Linked DNA regions of Homo sapiens. The protein of the gene in region 1 purifies or fractionates together with the protein of each later gene. This does not show direct contact. Each region holds a gene or a part of one and is shown in the gene's direction. Other genes may lie near its edges.

The links.
Region 2: the proteins of NGFR (region 1) and BACE1 purify together in Homo sapiens (affinity purification with western blotting; one study listed by BioGRID). This does not show direct contact.
Region 3: the proteins of NGFR (region 1) and SORT1 purify together in Homo sapiens (affinity purification with western blotting, with the first as the bait; 2 studies listed by BioGRID). This does not show direct contact.
Region 4: the proteins of NGFR (region 1) and NTRK2 purify together in Homo sapiens (affinity purification with western blotting; one study listed by BioGRID). This does not show direct contact.
Region 5: the proteins of NGFR (region 1) and SORCS3 purify together in Homo sapiens (affinity purification with western blotting; one study listed by BioGRID). This does not show direct contact.
Region 6: the proteins of NGFR (region 1) and NTF3 purify together in Homo sapiens (affinity purification with western blotting, with the first as the bait; one study listed by BioGRID). This does not show direct contact.
Region 7: the proteins of NGFR (region 1) and NTRK1 purify together in Homo sapiens (affinity purification with western blotting; 2 studies listed by BioGRID). This does not show direct contact.

The regions. Positions count from the first base shown.
Region 1 is NC_000017.11:49,494,070-49,498,092, forward strand, and holds the start of NGFR (tumor necrosis factor receptor superfamily member 16 precursor), read left to right. Parts: upstream 1-1,223; 5' UTR 1,224-1,348; coding exon 1,349-1,414; intron 1,415-4,023. UniProt on the Homo sapiens protein: Low affinity receptor which can bind to NGF, BDNF, NTF3, and NTF4. Forms a heterodimeric receptor with SORCS2 that binds the precursor forms of NGF, BDNF and NTF3 with high affinity, and has much lower affinity for mature NGF and BDNF.
Region 2 is NC_000011.10:117,285,257-117,288,756, reverse strand, and holds the end of BACE1 (beta-secretase 1 isoform A preproprotein), read left to right. Parts: 3' UTR 1-3,059; downstream 3,060-3,500. UniProt on the Homo sapiens protein: Responsible for the proteolytic processing of the amyloid precursor protein (APP).
Region 3 is NC_000001.11:109,314,419-109,317,918, reverse strand, and holds part of SORT1 (sortilin isoform 1 preproprotein), read left to right. Parts: coding exon 1-66; intron 67-960; coding exon 961-1,069; intron 1,070-3,140; coding exon 3,141-3,247; intron 3,248-3,500.
Region 4 is NC_000009.12:84,676,229-84,679,728, forward strand, and holds part of NTRK2 (BDNF/NT-3 growth factors receptor isoform a precursor), read left to right. Parts: intron 1-3,500. UniProt on the Homo sapiens protein: Receptor tyrosine kinase involved in the development and the maturation of the central and the peripheral nervous systems through regulation of neuron survival, proliferation, migration, differentiation, and synapse formation and plasticity.
Region 5 is NC_000010.11:105,214,790-105,218,289, forward strand, and holds part of SORCS3 (VPS10 domain-containing receptor SorCS3 precursor), read left to right. Parts: intron 1-2,146; coding exon 2,147-2,333; intron 2,334-3,500. UniProt on the Homo sapiens protein: Plays an important role in modulating synaptic transmission and plasticity in the hippocampus, probably by affecting the trafficking and localization ofAMPA-type glutamate receptors in the postsynaptic density.
Region 6 is NC_000012.12:5,491,108-5,493,453, forward strand, and holds part of NTF3 (neurotrophin-3 isoform 1 preproprotein), read left to right. Parts: intron 1-2,346. UniProt on the Homo sapiens protein: Seems to promote the survival of visceral and proprioceptive sensory neurons.
Region 7 is NC_000001.11:156,863,865-156,867,364, forward strand, and holds part of NTRK1 (high affinity nerve growth factor receptor isoform 2 precursor), read left to right. Parts: intron 1-489; coding exon 490-564; intron 565-863; coding exon 864-935; intron 936-3,045; coding exon 3,046-3,114; intron 3,115-3,500. UniProt on the Homo sapiens protein: Receptor tyrosine kinase involved in the development and the maturation of the central and peripheral nervous systems through regulation of proliferation, differentiation and survival of sympathetic and nervous neurons.

The DNA.
Region 1 (4,023 bases):
TGGGAACGAAGAAATGGAGGGAACAGGAAAGGGGTAAGCATGGGGGTGGGTGGCATGCTTTTGGGGTTGGGAGGCATATTATTTGGACTTGGCAAGGTTTCTAGGGCAAGATGAATTTGGTCCTAGCACATGGATGGGTACACAGATATGAGTCCATTTCACCACTTTTCTATTTATTCCCTTCTACAAAACTTTCTTGAACCCTACTGTATACCAGGAATTCAGAGAAGAAACCATAATCCCTGCCTGCAGAGCTCATAAGCCCATGGAGACACTCACAGTCTGGTGAAGTCTATATTGTTGAAGATGCATCTGTTTGTTTGTTGATGGGTGTCAGTGTGTGTGTGCACTCATGAATGTGTGTGTTTGTGTGACTGTATACATGTGAGGGCTTATGCAGACACGACTGTATACATGCATGTGTGAATGTGTACATATGCGCGTTTGAATGTCCGGATCACATATGTGCCCGTGTGCATGCCTGGAGAGGTGCATGTGTGGGACAGTCAGGTCGGCAGGAGTGCATGAGAACGGTGTGGGCACACGTAAGTGCACGATCACACATACAAGTGAGCTTGAGAGTGTGTATTCCTGTGCACTGTGTGCACACCTGTGACCCCTTCAAACCCCTCATTTGAGAATCAAATGATGTCGGAATGGACTCCACCTTGAATGTCGATGGCCGAGGTAAGGGCGCCTGCGCCCCTCCCCTCCCCCTAGGCCTCTGCCCAGGGATCTCCTGCACTGGGAAGGGGAGGGGTGGGGATGGGGTGGAGGTGGGGTGATGGACTGAGATGAAGGGCAGGGAGGGCAAGCGGGCATTCTTACTGATAGGGGGCAGTTAGGGAGCAAGGCTCCAGGGAGAAGGTGAAGCCAGAGGCGGAGGAAGATGGGTAAGAGAGTGAACCCTGTGGCGGGCCGCAGCCGGAGAGGAACAGGAACCGCAGTGGGGACGCCCTGGTCCCCGGGCCCACAGCATCCGGGACGGACGCGCAGTAGCGCGGGCCGGGAACTGGGTACCAGGGCGGGATGGGTGAGAGGCTCTAAGGGACAAGGCAGGGAGAAGCGCAGCGGGGTGCGGGGAACCGCACGCCCTCCCTTTGCCTCTGCTTCCCACCCCGAGGCGGCAGGGCGGGCGGGCGCGGTTCCGGGGGTGGGCGGGCTGGGCGGGGCGGAGGCGGGGCCGCAGCACTGGCTTCACCCAGCCTCTCCCGCCCGCAGCCAGAGCGAGCCGAGCCGCGGCCAGCTCCGGCGGGCAGGGGGGGCGCTGGAGCGCAGCGCAGCGCAGCCCCATCAGTCCGCAAAGCGGACCGAGCTGGAAGTCGAGCGCTGCCGCGGGAGGCGGGCGATGGGGGCAGGTGCCACCGGCCGCGCCATGGACGGGCCGCGCCTGCTGCTGTTGCTGCTTCTGGGGGTGAGTGTTAGCCGGAGGGGGCCCGCTCCCTTTCCCGGGATCAGAACTCCGAGAAGAGCCGGGCGCCGCCACCAAGGAAACAGAACAGAGCATTGGGGTCCCAGATACTGAGGGTGGGTGGTGGGAAAGGACCTCTGATGCCGGGACCACGAAGGAGGGTCTAGGGTTCCCGGAGCGCAGAGGCGACTCTCCAGGGTGGAGATGAGGGCAAGACCGGAGCACGGATGCCGGTCCTCAGGTACCGCAGGGGGCGGTGGGGGAGCTGGGAGGGGTCTTTCAAGAGGGGGCATGGGGCTCTCCGATGCCCAGGTTCTTCGGAAGAGGACACTCGAATGCCGGGATCCCGAAGGGACTTTCCCCTCAGCATCTCGGTCTCTGGAGAGTCGTGGGACAGAACCAAGGCGAGAGAAGGAGGGGGAACTGGACGGGGACTAGAGATGAGAGGGGCGAGCTGGGCTGGGGCGGGGAGCCCGGGACGACGGGATGGAACAATGGAGGAGGTCGGAGGGACTGGAGGCAGAGGGGACCCGGCAAGGACAATGGGGACCGGCCAGACAATGGGGGGGAGGGGCGTCGGAGGGAGAGGTTGGGGAGCGGGAGAGAGGTTGAGAAGTGGGTTAGGGAGGGCAGAAGAGGGGCGACGGCGAGGGCGGCAGAGAGATGGAAGCAGAAGGAAAGGAGACAGAGCGGGGCGCGGACCCTGAAGTGGTCGGGGTCCCGCCTGCCCGCTGAGGGACAGTGAGACGAGAAGAGAGAGCAGAGGCTTGGACATTTCCAGCGCCTGTCCCCGCGCTCCTGCTCGCGGCCTCTCCCAGTCCCGGAATTGGGGCTGCGGATCTAAGGCTGGGAGGGGAGTGCCCACTTCGCCGGGGCGAACCCGCTCCCGGGGTTCCCCCACGGCCGGCGGGCTCCTCCGACGCGCGTGTTCTCACGGCTTGAAGCAGCGCAGCGGATCGCGAGGGACGGAGCGGGTGTGCCCCTACCCGGGCTGGCGGTGGCTACGTCTCGGGGTGCAGAGCGCCGGGGCGCACTAGGCGGGGACCCTTCCTGGCCGCGCGCAGCTCTGGCTACGCAGGCGGGAGGCGGCAGGCAGGGGGCGCTGCGGGGCGAGGCAAGTGCAGTCCGCCGCTGCCTGCCTGCGAGTCTGGGGCTGCGCGCCGCTCCCCACCTAGCTGCGCGACCCGAGCGCCGCGCCCACCGCGCTCCGTGGGCTCCCGCGCCTCGAAGGGTCGGGATCCGGTCTGAGCCTCTCCTGGCTCTCGGTGCAAGCCGCTGGGCACCTAACGAGACGGGGGCGCCCGGACGCCTCGGATTCTGTAGCGCGGTATCCCGGGCCACCGACTCGGCAAAGGTCGGCGGGTCCTCCGGGTGGTCCGACGAGATTGTCAGATGTGGCCTGCTTTATGGCCATGAACCGAATGCCCTGGAAGGTCTGGCAACGGAGGAGGCGTCTTCACTCTCCCCGCCAGCATCTTTCATCAGAGCACTGCGCCCCAAATTCCGGCTTTACAGATACGGAGACTGAGGCTCTGAGAGTTTAAACGACTTGGCCAAGATCTCACAGCAAGTTGGGCCAGAGTCGTGGCTAGACTCCCCGACCTGATTCCCAGCTCGGTACTCCCCCACCTTTTCAGGGGGCAGCCGCTGTCCCAGCTCGGGGTCACGGCTGCGTTTCCCAGCAGGGCGGGGGGGGTTGACACTGTCCCCAGAGTCCGTCGGCGGTAGAGCCTGCGGGTGAGGTGGGCAGAGATTCTGTCCGGGTGCGGGCCCCAGCCCGAAAGCTCAGCCCCAGTTCCCTGGAGCTGTCAGGACCTGTGGCTGCGTCCGGGGATTTGGGAGCGACCGCGGGCACGTCTGCTGACTAACGCCGCTGGTTAGAGACGCTGCTCAGACGCGGGTGGGCGAGCGTAGACCAGGAGAGCGGGGAGGAGGGACCGGATCCCAGAGGGGCAACGACTTGGGCTCCGGGTCTGGGCAAGAGCGAGGGTCCCCGCGCGAAGACCCAAGGAAGGAGGGGAGCTGGGCGTGGAGGACCTGGGCGCTTGGGAAGGTGTACCCCGACAGGAACCTGCCGTCTGCAGCCCCTGCGGCTCCCGCCTCCGCCTCGGCGCGCGGCTGCTCGGTCTGGGATGGCTGTGCGCGGTCCGAGTTTCTTCCTGGGCCGCGGTGAGAGAGAGAGGGCTGAAACCAGAGCGCGTCCCGGCGGGTCGGCTGGCGGGCCGCGCCGGTAATGGAGGCACTTTGTCATTCAGACGTCTGTAACCAGAGCCGCCGGGCTGGCTAATGCGCCTAATAGGGATGGAACGAGGGCAGCAAATGGGCGTGCGTGAGCGGCCGGGCTGAGCTGGGTGGATGGTGGATGGGGAGGCAGCTCCGCGGGGGACGGGCCCCTACCGCACTGTTCCAGCCCAGTCTGGCTCAAGCGCCTCGCTTCTTCCCTGGGGGACCGCGTGGGGAGGCGGGAATAATCGCATGTGCTGAGTTCCTACTAAGTGCCTTGCACTTCCCTGGTAGTTTCTCTTGAATTATTTAATCCTTATAAGGTCCTAGCAAGGTGAATTTAGTTATTCCCACTTCGCAGTTGAGGAAACAGAACCTTCTAGACTTTC
Region 2 (3,500 bases), on another chromosome or scaffold:
CTTAAATGAAGTGCCCACTAAGAAGTTCCACTTAACACATGAATTTCTGCCATATTAATTTCATTGTCTCTATCTGAACCACCCTTTATTCTACATATGATAGGCAGCACTGAAATATCCTAACCCCCTAAGCTCCAGGTGCCCTGTGGGAGAGCAACTGGACTATAGCAGGGCTGGGCTCTGTCTTCCTGGTCATAGGCTCACTCTTTCCCCCAAATCTTCCTCTGGAGCTTTGCAGCCAAGGTGCTAAAAGGAATAGGTAGGAGACCTCTTCTATCTAATCCTTAAAAGCATAATGTTGAACATTCATTCAACAGCTGATGCCCTATAACCCCTGCCTGGATTTCTTCCTATTAGGCTATAAGAAGTAGCAAGATCTTTACATAATTCAGAGTGGTTTCATTGCCTTCCTACCCTCTCTAATGGCCCCTCCATTTATTTGACTAAAGCATCACACAGTGGCACTAGCATTATACCAAGAGTATGAGAAATACAGTGCTTTATGGCTCTAACATTACTGCCTTCAGTATCAAGGCTGCCTGGAGAAAGGATGGCAGCCTCAGGGCTTCCTTATGTCCTCCACCACAAGAGCTCCTTGATGAAGGTCATCTTTTTCCCCTATCCTGTTCTTCCCCTCCCCGCTCCTAATGGTACGTGGGTACCCAGGCTGGTTCTTGGGCTAGGTAGTGGGGACCAAGTTCATTACCTCCCTATCAGTTCTAGCATAGTAAACTACGGTACCAGTGTTAGTGGGAAGAGCTGGGTTTTCCTAGTATACCCACTGCATCCTACTCCTACCTGGTCAACCCGCTGCTTCCAGGTATGGGACCTGCTAAGTGTGGAATTACCTGATAAGGGAGAGGGAAATACAAGGAGGGCCTCTGGTGTTCCTGGCCTCAGCCAGCTGCCCACAAGCCATAAACCAATAAAACAAGAATACTGAGTCAGTTTTTTATCTGGGTTCTCTTCATTCCCACTGCACTTGGTGCTGCTTTGGCTGACTGGGAACACCCCATAACTACAGAGTCTGACAGGAAGACTGGAGACTGTCCACTTCTAGCTCGGAACTTACTGTGTAAATAAACTTTCAGAACTGCTACCATGAAGTGAAAATGCCACATTTTGCTTTATAATTTCTACCCATGTTGGGAAAAACTGGCTTTTTCCCAGCCCTTTCCAGGGCATAAAACTCAACCCCTTCGATAGCAAGTCCCATCAGCCTATTATTTTTTTAAAGAAAACTTGCACTTGTTTTTCTTTTTACAGTTACTTCCTTCCTGCCCCAAAATTATAAACTCTAAGTGTAAAAAAAAGTCTTAACAACAGCTTCTTGCTTGTAAAAATATGTATTATACATCTGTATTTTTAAATTCTGCTCCTGAAAAATGACTGTCCCATTCTCCACTCACTGCATTTGGGGCCTTTCCCATTGGTCTGCATGTCTTTTATCATTGCAGGCCAGTGGACAGAGGGAGAAGGGAGAACAGGGGTCGCCAACACTTGTGTTGCTTTCTGACTGATCCTGAACAAGAAAGAGTAACACTGAGGCGCTCGCTCCCATGCACAACTCTCCAAAACACTTATCCTCCTGCAAGAGTGGGCTTTCCAGGGTCTTTACTGGGAAGCAGTTAAGCCCCCTCCTCACCCCTTCCTTTTTTCTTTCTTTACTCCTTTGGCTTCAAAGGATTTTGGAAAAGAAACAATATGCTTTACACTCATTTTCAATTTCTAAATTTGCAGGGGATACTGAAAAATACGGCAGGTGGCCTAAGGCTGCTGTAAAGTTGAGGGGAGAGGAAATCTTAAGATTACAAGATAAAAAACGAATCCCCTAAACAAAAAGAACAATAGAACTGGTCTTCCATTTTGCCACCTTTCCTGTTCATGACAGCTACTAACCTGGAGACAGTAACATTTCATTAACCAAAGAAAGTGGGTCACCTGACCTCTGAAGAGCTGAGTACTCAGGCCACTCCAATCACCCTACAAGATGCCAAGGAGGTCCCAGGAAGTCCAGCTCCTTAAACTGACGCTAGTCAATAAACCTGGGCAAGTGAGGCAAGAGAAATGAGGAAGAATCCATCTGTGAGGTGATAGGCAAGGATGAAAGACAAAGAAGGAAAAGAGTATCAAAGGCAGAAAGGAGATCATTTAGTTGGGTCTGAAAGGAAAAGTCTTTGCTATCCGACATGTACTGCTAGTACCTGTAAGCATTTTAGGTCCCAGAATGGAAAAAAAAATCAGCTATTGGTAATATAATAATGTCCTTTCCCTGGAGTCAGTTTTTTTAAAAAGTTAACTCTTAGTTTTTACTTGTTTAATTCTAAAAGAGAAGGGAGCTGAGGCCATTCCCTGTAGGAGTAAAGATAAAAGGATAGGAAAAGATTCAAAGCTCTAATAGAGTCACAGCTTTCCCAGGTATAAAACCTAAAATTAAGAAGTACAATAAGCAGAGGTGGAAAATGATCTAGTTCCTGATAGCTACCCACAGAGCAAGTGATTTATAAATTTGAAATCCAAACTACTTTCTTAATATCACTTTGGTCTCCATTTTTCCCAGGACAGGAAATATGTCCCCCCCTAACTTTCTTGCTTCAAAAATTAAAATCCAGCATCCCAAGATCATTCTACAAGTAATTTTGCACAGACATCTCCTCACCCCAGTGCCTGTCTGGAGCTCACCCAAGGTCACCAAACAACTTGGTTGTGAACCAACTGCCTTAACCTTCTGGGGGAGGGGGATTAGCTAGACTAGGAGACCAGAAGTGAATGGGAAAGGGTGAGGACTTCACAATGTTGGCCTGTCAGAGCTTGATTAGAAGCCAAGACAGTGGCAGCAAAGGAAGACTTGGCCCAGGAAAAACCTGTGGGTTGTGCTAATTTCTGTCCAGAAAATAGGGTGGACAGAAGCTTGTGGGGTACATGGAGGAATTGGGACCTGGTTATGTTGTTATTCTCGGACTGTGAATTTTGGTGATGTAAAACAGAATATTCTGTAAACCTAATGTCTGTATAAATAATGAGCGTTAACACAGTAAAATATTCAATAAGAAGTCAAACTACTAGGGTTACTTTTTTTTCCTCAATCAGAGTCTCATTTTATCCATTTGGAGTAGAGTGGCTAAAACAATACTGAGGCTTCTGGAGGCTTTCGGTAAGCAAGGCATCTGGTTGGACAGTGGGTGAGCACCAGGCTTTAAATCTGCATACATGAGCCTTAAGGAAATGGACTAGAGGCTGAGCCAAACCAAAGCAGAATGGCCTTAGAGCAACAGCAGGTTCCTAGGTGGTTTTTATATTGTATTTGAAAACAGCCCTGGGCAGGGATATCATAATTTCAAGGCCAAACTAAACATCATCTTCCCTACAATCTGCATCCCCCAAAGGAATTGCAAGATGAGGGGGAACAGACTGTTTCTGCATAATATACATAGTTTCATTTACGAACATTGGAATACAGACTTTCTATACACACATTACCTATATAATAAAAATGTACA
Region 3 (3,500 bases), on another chromosome or scaffold:
AGAACTGAAGGGCCACGACCTGGAGTTTTGTCTGTACGGAAGAGAAGAACACCTAACAACAAATGGGTGAGGTGGCCTTTTCTCCCTTGTCACGATGGATGAGGTGTTCTTGTTCAGAGTGAAAGCTGCTTCTCTCCACACTGAGATCCAAGCCCTACTTTAGAGCACTATTTTTGGCGGGGTTGGGGAGGGGCAGGATATGAAGGCCTCCTTCAAGGGTCAACTACAGGAGGTGAGCCATGAGTGCTTGGTGTCAGAGGACTCAACCCCACCAACACCACGAGGCAGAGCAGGAGAACAAGCTCGGCCAGATCCTGCACCCCTGCCTCCCGCCCAACCACCCCCAGGAAGGGAGGAGAGGCGAGGGACCCACAGGCAGAATGACAGAAGCGTCCCATCCGCCATGAACGTCCATCGCTCGTCTGGCACAGTTTAGGCACAGCCAGGGAGAGCTCTGTCTGATAGGACTTTCTTTGGTGATGGAAGTGTTCTGTAATTTGCTGTGCCCAATATGATAGTCACTAGCCACACATAGCTGTGGACACTAGTGTAACCGAGGAACTGAAATTTTCGTTTTAATCAATTTTAAGTAGCCACCATATTGGACAGTGCTGCTCTAGACGGGCCTCATTACCTCGCTCCCCTGATAACTTCCCCTCTCCCATTTTGTACCACTTGTTAATGAGCTTTTTTGGGGTCAGATTTCTTTGGCACAGTCTCTTAGGTAGAAAGAACAGGCATGTTTCTGACAGCAGGGGACAGAGATGCTTAGTTTGCTTAAGGCCTGAAACTACACAAAATATCCCCCAAAACATCCCTGTGGACATTCCCCCCAGGCCTGAAACATGACGTAAGGATGGGAAGCTTTTCGGCAGCTTTTCAAATCTTGTTTCCAAGAAATAGGCAGGTACCCAGGAATACATCCTTATCTTCTGTTACCAAATCTTCTTTGCCTGGTAGGTACCGGAAAATTCCAGGGGACAAATGCCAGGGTGGGGTAAATCCAGTTCGAGAAGTAAAAGACTTGAAAAAGAAATGCACAAGCAACTTTTTGAGTCCGGAAAAACAGGTATGTTAAAATAGGTCTAGTTTTCAGGTACAAATGGGATTTTGTGTTCTGCTAAGAAAAATCAAAGTTAAAGCATCAAGAGTTTTGTTACTGATAAAAAGTGGTCAAACTACTTCTCTCAGGCTTCCCTTATACAGGAAGCTGTTAGCATGAAGGATGGGTCATGTAACCCAGTGATAAGCTCACCCTACTGAAAGCTCTTTTCTTATTGAGGGTTGGGGGATGATATTCTGTAAAGTTGTAAAATTCTTAAAATCATACAGTTGTGGAAATTTCTGAGGCTGAGAGTCATTTAGGAAAACAAAAAGGTTGTCTGTGGGCTGGGTACAGTGGCTCACACCTGTAATCCCAGCACTTTGGAAGTCCAAGGCAGGCAGATCACTGAGGTCAGGAGTTCAAGACCAGGCTGTCCAACATGGTGAAACCCTGTCTCTGCTAAAAATACAAAAATTAAAATTACAAAAATTAGCTGGGTGTGGTGGTTTACGCCTGTAGTCCCAGTTACTCGGGAGGCTGAGGTAGGAGAATCATGTGAACCTGGGAGGTGGAGGTTGCAGTGAGCCGAGATCGTGCTGCTACACTCCAACCTGGGCAACAGAGCAAGACTCCGTACCAAAAAAAAAAGGTTGTCTGTGAAGGGCCATGACCTGGAATTGTGCATGTGTGGAAGAGAAGAGCACTGGGCAATAGGTAGGGTGGATCTCTGACCAAGTCATGTTAAGTATGTTCAAAGTGAAAAATTGAGCTATGGTAATGGGCTGGTTTTGATTTAAATGAAGCAAGTTACCTGTCGGGCATGGTGGCTTACTCCTGTATAGTCCCAGCACTTTGGGAGGCTGAGGTGGGGAGATCAGTTGAGGCTATGAATTGGAGAGCAGCCTGGGCAACATGGAGAAACTCCATCTTTACAAAAAAAATACAAAAATTAGCCGGATGTGGTGGTGTGTGCCTGTAGTCCCAGCTACTCAGGAGGCTGAAGGGAGAGAATCACCTGAGCCTGGGAGGTCAAGGCTGCAGTGAGCCATGATCATATCACTGCACTCCAGCCTGGGTGACAGAGTGAGATCCTGTCTCAATTTAAAAAAAAAAAAAAAAAAAAAAGGTTATGAGGCTGCATCCAAATCTGTAGCACTGAACTACCTGTGGAACTGGAGATGTGTAAAGAGGAAACCTCTTGATAATGAAACACTAGACCAGCAGCATGACTTCAGATGCTCAACAGCAGGCCCGTTTCCCAATTCGTAATAGGAGAGGTCAAGCTGGATCACCTGCAGTCCCTCCTCTCTGCTGTTCTAAGGGATGAGGGACTGACAAGGGGTGGGATTAAGGAGATGATGGGAGAGGAGTGTGTGAGTGTGTGTATTGGTAAGGGGGCGAGTTCCTCCTTCTGTGCACCCTTGTCCTGGGCTCCTGGTGACTCTCCTCAGAGTGTTCGTGTGTGTGATTGCACAGGACTCCCACCCACAGGGACACAGCTTGTCCTAGAATCCAGCTCTGCCTCCTCTGGGATACATTGAAAACACACACTCCCTATTTCCCACCCAGAAGCAGGTAGGTCACATGCAAACAGTGATATGATAAGGCTTATTTATAATAATATATAAAAAATTAAGTAAACAAATAAATCTTGGTGTCATATAATGGCCTGCCTGGTTCTTCTGACACAGCTTCTTCCCAGATAATGGCCCTGTTCTAGAGTCATTCAGCCTACTGTTACAGTAGTCTCCCTTTCCTACTCCACCCTTAAGCCCCAAGACTTGTGAACAGTGGTAGTGTGAAGCAATCATACTTGATCTAGGCAGTTGCCCAGGCTTCCAGTGTAACTTTGACATTTAAACCACAGAATTTGAAGGTTCAAGGCAGTTGGAGCTAAGATGACTCTCTGCCAGCTATAATATTCTCCTGGTAACACTGAGATGGTTCATCTTGGGGGGTTGGAAAAGAGCCATCATTAAGCGCATCAGGACTGCAGATCATTCACAAAGAGATGAGGGGAATGAGTGGCTGCCTTGACCTCAGTCCTAGGATATGCATGCCTAAAACTTTTGTGTTTGTGTTTTAATTTCTCAAGAATTCCAAGTCAAATTCTGTTCCAATTATCCTGGCCATCGTGGGATTGATGCTGGTCACAGTCGTAGCAGGAGTGCTCATTGTGAAGAAATATGTCTGTGGGGGAAGGTAAGGAACACAGAAGTCAATCCAAGGTACTGAGTTCAAGCCAGAAGGCTGATCTAGGGCATATGGCTGAGTCTACTCTTGGCAAAAACTAGGTACTTGCAGTACTGTTCCTGAAAAATCAGGCCCAAATCTTCTCATGTCGTACATTTTTCATATGTCAACCATGGACTGTGCTTTCTGTGTCTGTGATGCGTTCCTGAGTGTATAAAACTGAGAAAGTCCACAGTCCTGTAAGAAGTGCACCCCTGCTGTG
Region 4 (3,500 bases), on another chromosome or scaffold:
AGGCTCTGAAGTTCCCTGAAGCCTCGGTCACGGAGATAAGGAAGTGTATACATCAGCTGTGAAGGAAGGGCATGATACAAGGTGCTCGGGGTCTGGCAGTGTGTGAATCTGAAGACCTTTGGTGTCAGAGTGTTATGTGGAAATGTTTTCAGTGTCTGCTCTGAACTCCCTCAAACCATGTCTTTTTAAATGTGAGCTGCTAACAAGGCTAGTGGCATGTTAGTACTGGTCTGATGAGTCCAAGGTCACAGGGTCAGTGTTCAGATGGGTCACTTAGAATCGGAACCTCAGAAAGAGAAAGGGCTTTAGAAATGATCTGCTTCAGCCTCTTCTTTGCAAAAATCAAGGGCAGTGAAGAAAGTTGCCGAAGGCCGACTCATTAACAGCATTGTGGGAACTAGAAGCTCCTTCTCCTAGCATCCAAATGAATGCTGGGGGCCTTTGCTTTAGGGTGCCTCCCCTCCGTTCTGTGTTCTCAAACAGACCGCCTAATTCTGGCTCATCATTTTATTAGGTTGGTGCGAAAGTAACTGTGGTTTTTGCCATTACTTTTGCACCAACCTAATAGAACCACCATAAATGGGGAGACAAGTTTAACATGGCTAAGTCTGTGCAAACTCATCTCTGTGAGAGACCAAGTAATTGAAAAGTGCATGAGCTACTGATCTGAAAGCAATCATCTTATCTTCATATAGGAAGAAATATATTTTCTGTTTAGCTTACTGTGTGTGAGTGTGTGTGTGTGTGTGTGTGTTAAATTTGAAGTGTTCCTCTTCTTTAGGCAATTCATACACAAAAAATTTGAGCTTCAGAGAAAAGCCTTCATGAGTTGGCAGCAATGAGGTATGCTAACCTTGGGCCTGCTGGGCCATCTTTGCAGATTGGCATTAGAAGAGGGGCAGAGCAGACAGAGTGAAATGAAACCTGTTGCCCCTGGAGTCTTTGCCACAGTCGGGGGTGCTTATGTAAGTGGAGAAACCCGCAGCCCTTTCGATGAGGTCTGTGTTAGCTGCCCTGAAAGACCTGTGGCCAGAGAGTACTTATTATTCCCCGACTTCTTTCTTCCCCCTGACTTCTCAATGCCTCAAGATTGATGACTAGTCTCAGTGGCTGAGCCAGTGAGCAAACTTCAGGATTATTGGCTCCCATCCAAAATTCATCCAGCTACCATTTTATGTGTTGTTCGTGTTCTGCTCTGAGACCTTTCCAGGAAAAGCACCCTTCTGAGACATATTTTTGGTTGCATGAAGATTTGCTCCCATGGGACGTGAAGGGCCCTTTACAGACATCTGCTTATTTAGGTTTACAGCCTCACTCTGAAGAAGGTGGGGAGGTTTTGGCAGCCTCTGAGGGGCTGTGAGGTTTATTAGTTTGCCTGGGCCCCTTGGTAAAGCAGAGCATAATTTAGGGGTAGGATCCTATCTAATGTCTCATTTAGGGCTCTGTCTACTCCAACCTTGGTGCCCAAATTTGACCTCGAGAGCCAAGGCAATTCTAGGAGAGGTCTAGAGATTTGAATTCATGTTCACAGATTAAACTTCATGCAGTGGGAAGGAGGTGGGCTGGTGCTTCATCCTCTGTCTTCCCCACCCCTATCCTCTTCTCCTGTTCAGCTCCTGAGCAGTCTGATATATATTGTGAAGAGATAAATGATTTGGTTGCCTTTGGTAATATGGCATCTTCTTGTACAAAATAAAACTGTTAATAATCACACACCATTTAGAGTTCCTTTTTTTATGTCAAATAAGGACAAATTGCTACTTAGCATCCCATCCTTTCCTGTAATCTTCATATCCCAAGAATTGTCTACACACACACACATAGACACACACCATAATGTTGTATGTGTGTACCGTGTTTTCATCAATACATAAATCTGTGTATAAAACTCTGCCATGTGTAATTTGTTCAACTTAATTATCTTGAGTTGTAAAATTTTCTGAATAATTGAGAATGTGCTTCCCTAAACCACTATTTTAATTTTGTTTTTATCATTCTGGATGTCCCTTGGCCAGGATCTGGTTGGGCTGTCTTCTTTGAGAGAAGTACTTGAGCATTAGTGCATTGACCCTGTTAGCCGACCTGGTCACTCAGAGACCCACTGTGTCTATCTTCTGATTCTTTGATATCTTCTCAACATAAACGAACAATGTAAACAAAATTGAAAGGTATCGGAATTTTGGTTTCAACCTCTGCAATATAGTGCAATTTAAAAAGAAAGGATCTTCTCAACGCTAATCTTTGTAACAAGAGTTGTTTCTACTTCATGTACCCCAGAGTCCCTTGCTGTGAGGTGGCAGAGGGGCCTATGCCTGAATTGTCTGACTCTTGCTCACTGTGTGGCAAGTGACCTCTCTTTTCTGGGCTTGGCTTATTCCTCTGTGTGATGCATGTGTAGGGGTGGAGGGTGCTGGGCAAGAGAGCTTGACATCATAGCCCCTAGATTCCCTGGTAAGGTGTGACAAAAAAACACACAACTATGGTGAAACAAAACAAAACAAAACAAGTGTCTTTCTCCAAAGAACAAAACAAAACCCCAAACCAGAACACTCTTTTTAGTTTACTCCCAATTTTACTTCAAAACCCTGCTGCTACCACCCAAACTCAAAGAATGTTATAGATGATATTGCTCCTTGGTTATTTCTTGTGTGCGTCTGGTGCTATGGCTTGAATGTTTGTATTCTGCCAAAATTCATGTGTTGAAACTCAGTCACCAGGGTAGTGGTGTTGAGAGGTGGGAGTTGATTAGGACATAAAGGCAAAATGGGATTGGTGCCCTTATAAAAGAGACTCCAGAGAGCTTGTTTGTCCTTCCTGCCATGTGAGGACACACATAGAAGGTGCCATTTATGAGGAATGGGCCCTCACCAGATATGAAACCTCCCAGAACCTTGATCTTAGACTTCTCAGCCTCTAAAACTGTGAGCAATACATTTCTGTTGTTATAAATTACCCAGTCTAAGATATTTTATTTTAGCAGCCCACATGGACTAAGGTACATGGGTTTGGCCTTTCTCTTTGCAACTCTTCAGCCTCTTTCTGTTTCTGGTGGTGTTTCTTATCCCCTTCTCCTCTGTTCCCAAATCACAGACATATATATACAAACAATCATTTGGCTGTAAACCCCCTTTAATGGATTGTAAAGAAATCTTGACTTGTGTACTTTTTTCTGGTGGACGACCTGTGGGCAGACCATCATTGTTTCAACTGAACCTGGCTTGGTAAGGTTAACACAGTGGGAAAGGCGACAAAGTATAGGAACGTGGTATAACTGAAAGGAGCGCTGGTTAGGGATCTAGGATTTTGGATACCCACTCTCTGACAGTATCAGGGTCTGGGATTTTGGTTGAGCCACTTGACCTCACCAGCCTGACTGATTTCATCTTGAACCTGGAGGCTGTGACACTCATGCATGCTACTCCTTGAAAGACTCTGTGGTTCTGAATCAGTCAGCCATGAGCACTAGTGTTTCCTTTTCTGTTCAAGAATTCACCATTGCC
Region 5 (3,500 bases), on another chromosome or scaffold:
CCTCCCTTTATCCCACAATAAAGACCCAGTCCGCAGTGGGAGCCCACTTGCCTCTGGAGCATGCAGATCTGGATATATTCTTCAGGGTCTCCATTAAAGTCTGCTTTGCTGAGGAATATTTATTACCATAAGACCATAAACTGTAAACTTGGCCAGAGGAAGGAAATGTGAATTTTATCTGTTGCTTTTAGGAGCCTCTTTTGCTTTATTCTGACCCTTAATCCCACTGATTAGAAAAGCCCACAAAGCTTTCACAAGGCCTTAAAAGTAAGAGCATGAGGATGGGGAAGATTATTGAAATCCTTTAAAGTTATCTTTATAAAGAATGTTGTATTAGTTGCTTTTCTATCAGCTAGATGCTGTATTCTTTCACTTTTTTAGTGTCTTCTGAAATCTGGGCAGTAAAATCAGACTACATACATTGATTCCAGTATGGGAATATCTCTGTTGTCTGCTTCTTTTATAAGCTGTTGAATTGCTTCCTATACTAGGGCATTTTAGGCACTCTTTGCTGAGTGGTAGAGCAGGAAGGCTTGCTTGATTGACACAGCCCTCTAAATTTATATGCAAATTGCTCTGTGCTCTTGAGATCTTGGAAAGAAGGCAAAACAGGCCAGGAGTCATTTTTTTTCACAAGTATGAGCACTTCAGAAACCTTTAAAAGTCAGGAGCACACTGGACAGGGTGGTGAAGGTTCCTTATCCTGGGTTGACAGATTTCTCAGCCTTCACTCACAGCAGGTGCTGGAATTAAAGGACTTTAAGATTCAGAGGAGGTCATTATCACATTTCCACTAGGGAGTTTCCAGGACCACAGCTATAAAAACCTTCTCTTGAATGGGTGTGAAGAGCCACGATCTTATCCGTTTGAATTGCCTCCAGTTCATTTCCACTTTAATTTATATTCATAAACTCAAGGATAGTTGACATTGTGTGGGGGGCAAGAGAGTACCTATCAATATTTCATTCACATCTGGGCTGCCATGGGGGAAGAAATGGAAAGTGAAACTGTGATCAGTGCACATTCACTGGGCAGAAGGATTGGCTCATAATTCCAAAATGATGTATTTCTCTCTTTATTCTATCACTCATCTTCATATATGAACAGAGCAATGCTATTCTTCATATAGGATCTTTGTTTTGTGGTCAAGTGCATTGTGTTGATCCAAAGTGTTGGCCCAATATAATGGTGGGGTGGGGGGGTGGGGACCAAGAAGAATGAGGTTCAGCATAGACCCTTAAGAAGCTAAGTGTTGGCTTGGGGTGGTGAGATGCATTCACCTGAATCATTGGCATCATGTTACCAGGTAGTACACAGAGAGCTCTTTCCAAGAGACAGAGATATCTGTGAACTGGGACAATCTGAAAAGGCTTCAGGGAAGAGGAGGCTTAAGTAGATTTAGGGAAGTCCAAGGATAAGAGAACAAGGGTATAATTTGGGGTGGTATGCAGTATTCATCTGTAGAATGGGAATCGCCATCCTATCCCTGCTGTTGTTTTGCAGATGGTGTTATATAATATGTATTAAGTGAGTAGCATAATTCTGGTAACATAGCAAATACTCAAAATAGGAGCAATTACAACTATAGCATGGCAACTGAGGGCATTATTATTGAAACCAGACTGGGTCTGGAACCTGGTCTTCCTGTACTCACTATGAAACTTTGGTCTAACTACTTATTTTTGTCCCCAGACAAATGGGGACAAAAATACTTTCTATAATATGGAATTATGAGGAGACTGCTTGCTTGGCACTAATAAAAAAAACCTCGGTAACTATTAGCTGCTACTATGATTGCAATTATTATTATGACACAAAAGGAGAATTAAACTATGTATGTGAGGGAGTCAGTGAAACCCTTGGCTTCCCTTCAGAACTTTACAGAGGGTCTACCTTGCCCACTATTGTCAGTGTCATACCAACTCAGCTTGCCCCGAGCTTGGGCGATGAGGACAATAGGTCCATAGTGCCTGCCCGTAGTACCCTGCGGATCAGATAGGAGTGTGATCATTGTGTTGCAGGTGTTTCAGCCCTTTGGGAAAGACTATGGGTCATCAGAGGTTGATGCTGAAGCAACAGGAGGAAGCATCAGATAGGAGTCTGGCTGGACCAAGTAAATTGACCCGTCTGCTATGCCATCTTGCAGGGTGATCTACAAAGGACAAACATCCAGCTTGACTTTGGGGATGGGATTGCTGTGTCCTACGCAAACTTCAGCCCCATCGAGGACGGCATCAAGCACGTGTATAAGAGTGCGGGGATCTTCCAGGTGACAGCCTATGCAGAGAACAACCTTGGCTCAGACACAGCTGTCCTCTTCCTGCATGTGGTTTGTAAGTAGGAGGCACCATCCCCGTTTTCCCTTTGTTCCCAGTTGGCAACTTGCTCTGTTCAGACTTCCTAAAATTCAGAGCTGAGCCCAGGTTCAGTGTGACTACTACAATTACCCAAACCAAATGGTGGAGATATGTACTCATCTGTGTTTCTGAGTATTATGGTACTGAAATAGATTGATTATTTTGAAGTTCGGATAACATATTACCACCTGGGCCGTCCTTTTCAGCACCACTCTGCTCTGATATAAATGTGTGCGTGCACACACATTCAGGTAAAAGTCTCCTCTCTTCCTTTTGGAGAATCCTCAAAATGAAAAAGATAGAAACAAGCCTTCTGGTTGATAGTCTCAGGCTCATTCTCAATCTATTATGAATGAAGACTGCACAAATCAAAGTCAACTGTTATTTGTGTTGTAAGAGCCAGAGAAGGATTAAAGAAACATGTTTAGATATTTTTAATTTAGAACTAAACACACACACAAAATTAATTTTTACATACAAGGTTACTGCAAGTTCATTCTGTTTTGACAATTCTAAGAACTCTCCAAAAATATTTTGTTGTGCTAGAATCTATTTCATTGCTATTGGCTGTTGCTTGGCACAAACCAAAAGAACAGTTGGTGTTCCAAAATATTTCATTTGTGCTGGATGCATTTTGTGTATTTTCTATTCTAGAATTTGATGCATGTAAACTGAAACTTTAATATTGTGATTTTAGGATGTCGGGTCGAGGAAATGTTGTCTTGGGGCTGGGATTGGTTTCCCACATGTGTATCAGTGATATTCGTGGGTCTAAGGACTTCCATGGTTCTTACTTACATACCCCACAAGAGTTTCCAGGTAATATGCTACATATAGTGAAAATCATAAGTTCTGAAAGAGTCTAAGTGAAAACAAGGAGCACCCTCCTATTAACAACTCAGTGATGGCATCAACTCTATTGTATAAACAACCTACACCTTAAGAGGTCCCTGGCAAACAGTAAGCTAGCTAGTCTCCTGGCTCTCCAGTCACAATGCCGGTAAAGGGACCAAAAGTGGTAAGGGATGTGTGTGAGAGGAGACCTGGATTATGTAGCTCAGTCATGTCCCTAAAAATGCCAGGCTACATGGCCATGAGATAAATGATTTCATTTCTCAATCTCCTGAACTCCAATTTTAAAAT
Region 6 (2,346 bases), on another chromosome or scaffold:
TCACTCTCTGCCATTGTTTAGCAGTCTGACCTTAGACAGCTCACTTCACCACAACTGCAGGCCTCCGTTCCCTTATATGTATAAATGAGGAGGTTGTCTAGGGTCCTTTCCAGCTGCAAACCTCTGTGTTTTGGGGAGTTCTGTTAGCAACATTCTTGGACTTGCTCTCTACGAGAAAAGCTAGAAGTCGATTATTAAAATGGAGTCCACAGGAAGCCTGCAGGGCTTTAAGACAGCCTTCTAAAGAGTTTAGAAACACTCACCAGCCTGCAGATGACTTACTCCCACTACTTATTACAAAGTATCATGGCAAGTAAGAAAGAAATGGTCAGCCACTGGGAGAGCAGGCTGAGGTTGCAAGGAAGTGGCAGGTGCTATCGTTGGGATCTTGGGGGAGCATTGTAGAAAGGTCAGCTTTGGAACCAGGCACTGAAAAACGGGTGAAATTTCAACAGGAGAGGCAGTGCACATGGGTTGTGATTTGAGCAGCAGTGAGTAGTGAATGGGGTTGGAGCAAGAGGCCTGTGAGCCCAGTCATCACATGGAAAAGGGAGGTGAGGGCCAGAGTGCAGAGAACCCCTCTCACTTTCCTGTGGGTCTCTCCTCTTCTTTTTTTTTTTTTTTTTTTTTGAATTGGAGTCTTGCTCTGTCGCCCAGGCTGGAGTGCAGTGGCGTGATGTTGGCTCACTGTAAGCTCCGCCTCCCGGGTTCACACCATTCTCCTGCCTCAGCCTCCCGAGTAGCTGGGACTACAGGCTGCCACCGTGCCCTGCTAATTTTTGTATTTTTTTTTAGACGGGGTTTCACCTTGTTAGCCAGGATGGTCTCGATCTCCTGACCTCGTGATCCACCCACCTCGGCCTCCCAAAGTGCTGGGATTACAGGCATAAGCCACCGTACCCGGCCTTTCTCCTCTTCTTTAAACTGCATTTAGGTTGTCCTCATCTATAAGATGAAGGAATAAGATTAGATGGCCTCTTTATATGGCTTATCTACTTCTAATAAACTTTGGTTCCATATTCCAGCCACCACCCATAAAGACTCTTACTTTTTCCTCCTCAATCCATCAGCATCAGCCAGCATTCTCCCTCTCAGTTCATCCTGGTCATTACCTCACTAATCTGTACCTTGACTCTTATTCTACCTGGGACCTCCCCTCACTAACCATACTTGATTTATTTCCTTAAGAGCGGATATCCTGTGTATTCTTAGCTTACAGTGGCTGAGCTTTTGGGAGGTTTAACAAATTGTTTTTCAATAGACTCTCAGTCCTAAATGATTTTATTGCAGCTGTATTATTCTTTTTGAGGGGAGTAGAGAATGTAATCCTAGTTGTATGCCATATTTTTTGTATTGTTCAAGTTGCATTTTGTTGGGCCTGTAATATTGAAGAAAATGTCACTTGTATGCAGAATAGGAGGGAGATTCCTTATGCTGTAGAGGAACCATTTTCCTAGGATAGTACAATTCCTTAGAGTCATCTCTAAGGGTGAGCAGCAAAGCTAGAATCCCTCTCTTGGCTTTGACCTTGAAGGAGTCAGTTTTCCCAAAGACTAGTTCCCATGGAAAGAAGATGGTCTCCTTATCACAGCAGCAAGAGGAGGCAGTATGAGCAGAGTGCCTCACTGTTGTTGACCTCTAGGGACAAGTGAGCCGGCAGTATTTCAGACAAGCTGGGAAAGAGGCTGTCTGTGAGTCCTGGGAGCGAGTGAGCACTGGCAGGCTCAGACATAGGTGCTGGTTAGCAGGACTGCTTTTCTGTTTCTTGTGTCGGCTTTGTTTATTTCCTCTCTATTTTCCCCCTGGACTTAGTAAAGTCTTTCCGAAAATACCAAAGGTGAACCAGGGGAAGAGTTTTTATTTTCCATGTTTGGACAGAACTTTAAAGAGGAAATGATGTACCCCCCTGGGAGCCAGTGAGGTGGCAGCGATGGTGATTAAGGAGTGAATATCTCAAGGAGGTGGACGAATTCGGGGATCACTAGCTCAGCTGCCCCTCTCCACCTGGAGCATCTCCTTCCAGTGCTACCCTCAGAACATCTGGGCTTTGCTCTAGTGAGGGAGAGACTAGCAATGAAGGTGTCTTGAGATCAGCACTGTAATTCCACCAGGACGCCACCGGAGTCCGGTGTTAAGCTTCTACTATGGCAACAGAATGAGAGCGTGGATGGGTTGAAATGCCATTTCAACAAGGAAATAGTAGAATTAGAAGAAGCATAAGCACTAAAAGGAACATTTTGTAGCAGAAATGTTAAAAATCTAAAGGAGGCAAGTGAATCAACAATGACTCTTCTATTCTGGGCAAGTCCAGCCCATTTATGTAAGGTGGTTATTCTGCATCTCTGT
Region 7 (3,500 bases), on another chromosome or scaffold:
CAGGGATGCCTGATATAAAAGGAGAACACCAATCTGAGAATGGACTTGTGTGTGTGCACGTGAGAGATGGACGTGAGCTTTGTTTCTGTGTGTCCATGGGTGAGCGTGTTCCTGCAGGCACATGTGCAGGTGCATGGCGTCATCTGTGCAGATGCTTATGCCTCTGTGTGTGCGCATGTGCATACCTAGGTGTGTGCATGTGTGCAAGAGGTATGTGAGAATGTGCATATGTGTGAGGGTGTGGGGATCCATATGTATGTGCGCTTGTGTGTTCATGCACACACATGTGCATGTGTGACTTGAGGTGCGTCTCTGTGCACATGTATGCATTTGTGTGTGCACGCCTGTGTAAGTGTGTATGCAGGTCTGAACAGGTGCATATGCGTGTGCATGTGGCATGTGCATGTGTATTGTGAGGGAGTAAGTGGGTGGGCATGGGAACTCAAGTGTGGGCCTGAGCCCTGTGACTCCCATCCGCTCTCCCCACAGCTACATCGAGAACCAGCAGCATCTGCAGCATCTGGAGCTCCGTGATCTGAGGGGCCTGGGGGAGCTGAGAAACCTGTGAGGGAAACGGGGACTGTGGGTGTGGAGCTCAGCATGGGCCTGGGGGAGACCAGAAGGTCAGGGAGGGCTCAAGCATCCGAGGGCCTGGGAGGACCTGAGAGGCTGAGCACTGAGGGACTGGGAGAAGTCAGGAAGCTCAGGGCTTTGAGGGGTCTAGAGTAGTTGAGGAAACAATGAGGGGCCTGAGGAGGGGTAGGGGTTCAGCACAGGGGACTGGGAGGCTGGGATGGGCAGGGAGGGCCAGGGGCCCAGAGTAGCTGAGACCTGGGGACTGATCCTCCTGCACCCCTCCCCAGCACCATCGTGAAGAGTGGTCTCCGTTTCGTGGCGCCAGATGCCTTCCATTTCACTCCTCGGCTCAGTCGCCTGTGAGTGTGGCCAGTGCTGGGCAGTGGGAGTTGGGGAGGACACCCAGACTTGGGCTGCTAATGGGCTTGGCTGTCCCCGGGGAATGATTGCGAGGAGGGCCCAAGCCTGGTCAGGGAAGTCACCTCACCATTCTCCTGGGGCTTCCTCCCATCTCCCTCAGGGATGGCATGCTCTCGCCCCTGACAGCTAGAGGTCCTCCTTGCCATCTCACTTCCATGGTCCATGCTGCAAGGACACTTCTCATAGGTGCCTGCCCTATCTTTCTTCCCAGGGCTCAGATACACACCAGTGCAAAGGGAGCAAGCGGCAGGAGCAGGACTCCTGGGTTCTGGCTGGGACTCCATTTCCCAGGGACTCATTGACTTGGCCCCTAGGACATCCTGGGAGCTGGGGTGTTAGGTCTGCCACTTGTCACCCTCCTCATTCCTGGGAGTCATAACTATCCCTCCTGTAGAGCAGTGGACCCCAACTTTTTTGGCACCAGAGACTGGTTTCATGGAAGACAATTTTACCACGGATGGTGCGGGAGGAGAGGATGATTTCAGGACGAAACTGTTCCACCTCAGATTATGAGGCATTAGTTAGATTCTCAAAAGGAGCACACAACCTAGATCCCTCACGTGCGCAGTAGTTCACAGAATCTAATGCTGCCATTGATATGACAGGAGGCGGAGCTCAGGCGGTAATGCTCACTCACCGCTGCTCACCTCCTGCTGTGTGGCCCGGTTCCTAAGAGACCACATATTTGCCCTGTTTATAGCCCCTCTTCCTTGCTGTGCTTCTCTTTTTCTTTAATTTATTTTTTAAGAGTCAGGGTCTCCCTCTGTTGCTCAGGCTGGAGAATAGTGGCACTATTACCCATCTGTGGCCTGGGAATTGGGGACCCCTGCTGTAGGACAGAGAGGGTCATGGGATGGGCAGGAGAGACTATCAGAGTCCCTGGCAGCCCCTCCCTGGCCTTCTGAGGGCAGGAGTTCAGCTCCCCTGTCCCCCAATATGAGCAGGCAGAGAGATGGGAAGGATGGTGGGGCTGACACTCATGGAGTTATGCAGGGTCCTCTAAACTCTGCTGTGTCCAGCAATTTAACAAAGCAAAATAAAGTGATGTCATATCACCGTCTATGCACCGGGGCTTCAGTTAAAAACGTGCTCAATGACACTTCACGATACTTATGTCAATGAATCTTCACAATCAACCTGGTGAGAGAGAGAGTGTTCTTGTCCCCATTTCATAGATGAGAATTCTGAGAATCAGAGAGGTTGAGTTTCTGGACTGAGGTCACACAGCTGTAAGTGGCAGGATAGAACTTACACCTGCTCTAGCTGGCTCTAGAGTGGGTTGTGTCTTTGGTCCCTATGTGGTGGTACTTCTCCCACCCAGCCACCACAAATTCTAGGTTGGCTAGGAAAGAAGAGGGGTCAGGATAGGCCCCTCAGAGGCAGAGGGTCCCAGCAGCGGCAGCCTGGCACAGGGCACAGGGCACTGGGGCTCCTACATCATTTTCCTGTGTGGCCTGGAGCCGGGCCCCTGCTGGGCTCACTTTTTCCATCCATACAACGAGGGGGCTGGGGGTGTGGGGGTGTGGGTCCTTTCCTGCCTGACCTTTTAGTCCCTGAGGAGGGCCCGGAAGGAGGAGGAGGAGGGGAGCTGAGGAAGTGCGTGGAGTTCCTTGTGGTCAGGTAGGGGCAAGGGAGTGGCAGCCTCAACCCTCCCCCTCTTCCTCTGGCCCCGTCCTGGGCTCTGTAGGGAGGGGAGCACAGATGGACCCCTTCCCCCAGCTGTGGCCTCAGCACTTTGCCAGCTGGGGCCAAAGCAGTGGGGGAGGGAGGAGCGGCTGTTCCCTCAGATCCCCCTCCCTGGGGTCTGGAGAGGGGGTTAAGTGGGGTTAACCCTTGTTGTCCCAGGGAAAGGAGTGGGACTCAGAAAGTCCCCCCACCCCCCACCCCACCATCTACACACACTGCCTTCCAGGGCTGGTTCTGGTTGCCTAGGCCGGGGCGGGGGAGCCAGATGTCAACTTCTTTCTTGGCTCCTCCCCTCCCTCATTCTGGTCAGAGTGAGGTCGGGTCACTCAAGGGGTCTGTCTTGCTGTGTCTCCACGCCCGCAGGAATCTCTCCTTCAACGCTCTGGAGTCTCTCTCCTGGAAAACTGTGCAGGGCCTCTCCTTACAGGAACTGTGAGTGGGGGCGCTTCCAGGGGCAAGAGCACCAAGTGTGTGTGTGCCTGTGTGCACTTGGGTCTGTTGGATGACATTGGGTCACTGTGTCTGTGTGACACTGCTGGGGGGTCTCTTTGGGGACTATGTGCATGCCAGTGAAACCCCCATCAAAGCAGGGGCTGCAGGACTACCCGTTAAGGGGGCTACTGCCCTGAGGAGCTGGCCTGGATGACTGTGTGTGTGCTGGGCCTGGCTGAGCAGATTACAGGCCCACTGTGTGTCCAAGGCACATCTGCCCACATTCCCAGGGCACCCTGCACAGGGGTGAGTGGGGCAGCAGGGGTCCATGTGTACCTGGTGGGCACTTAAAGCCTCTGGGTCACTCTGGGGGGCTGTGCCCTTCC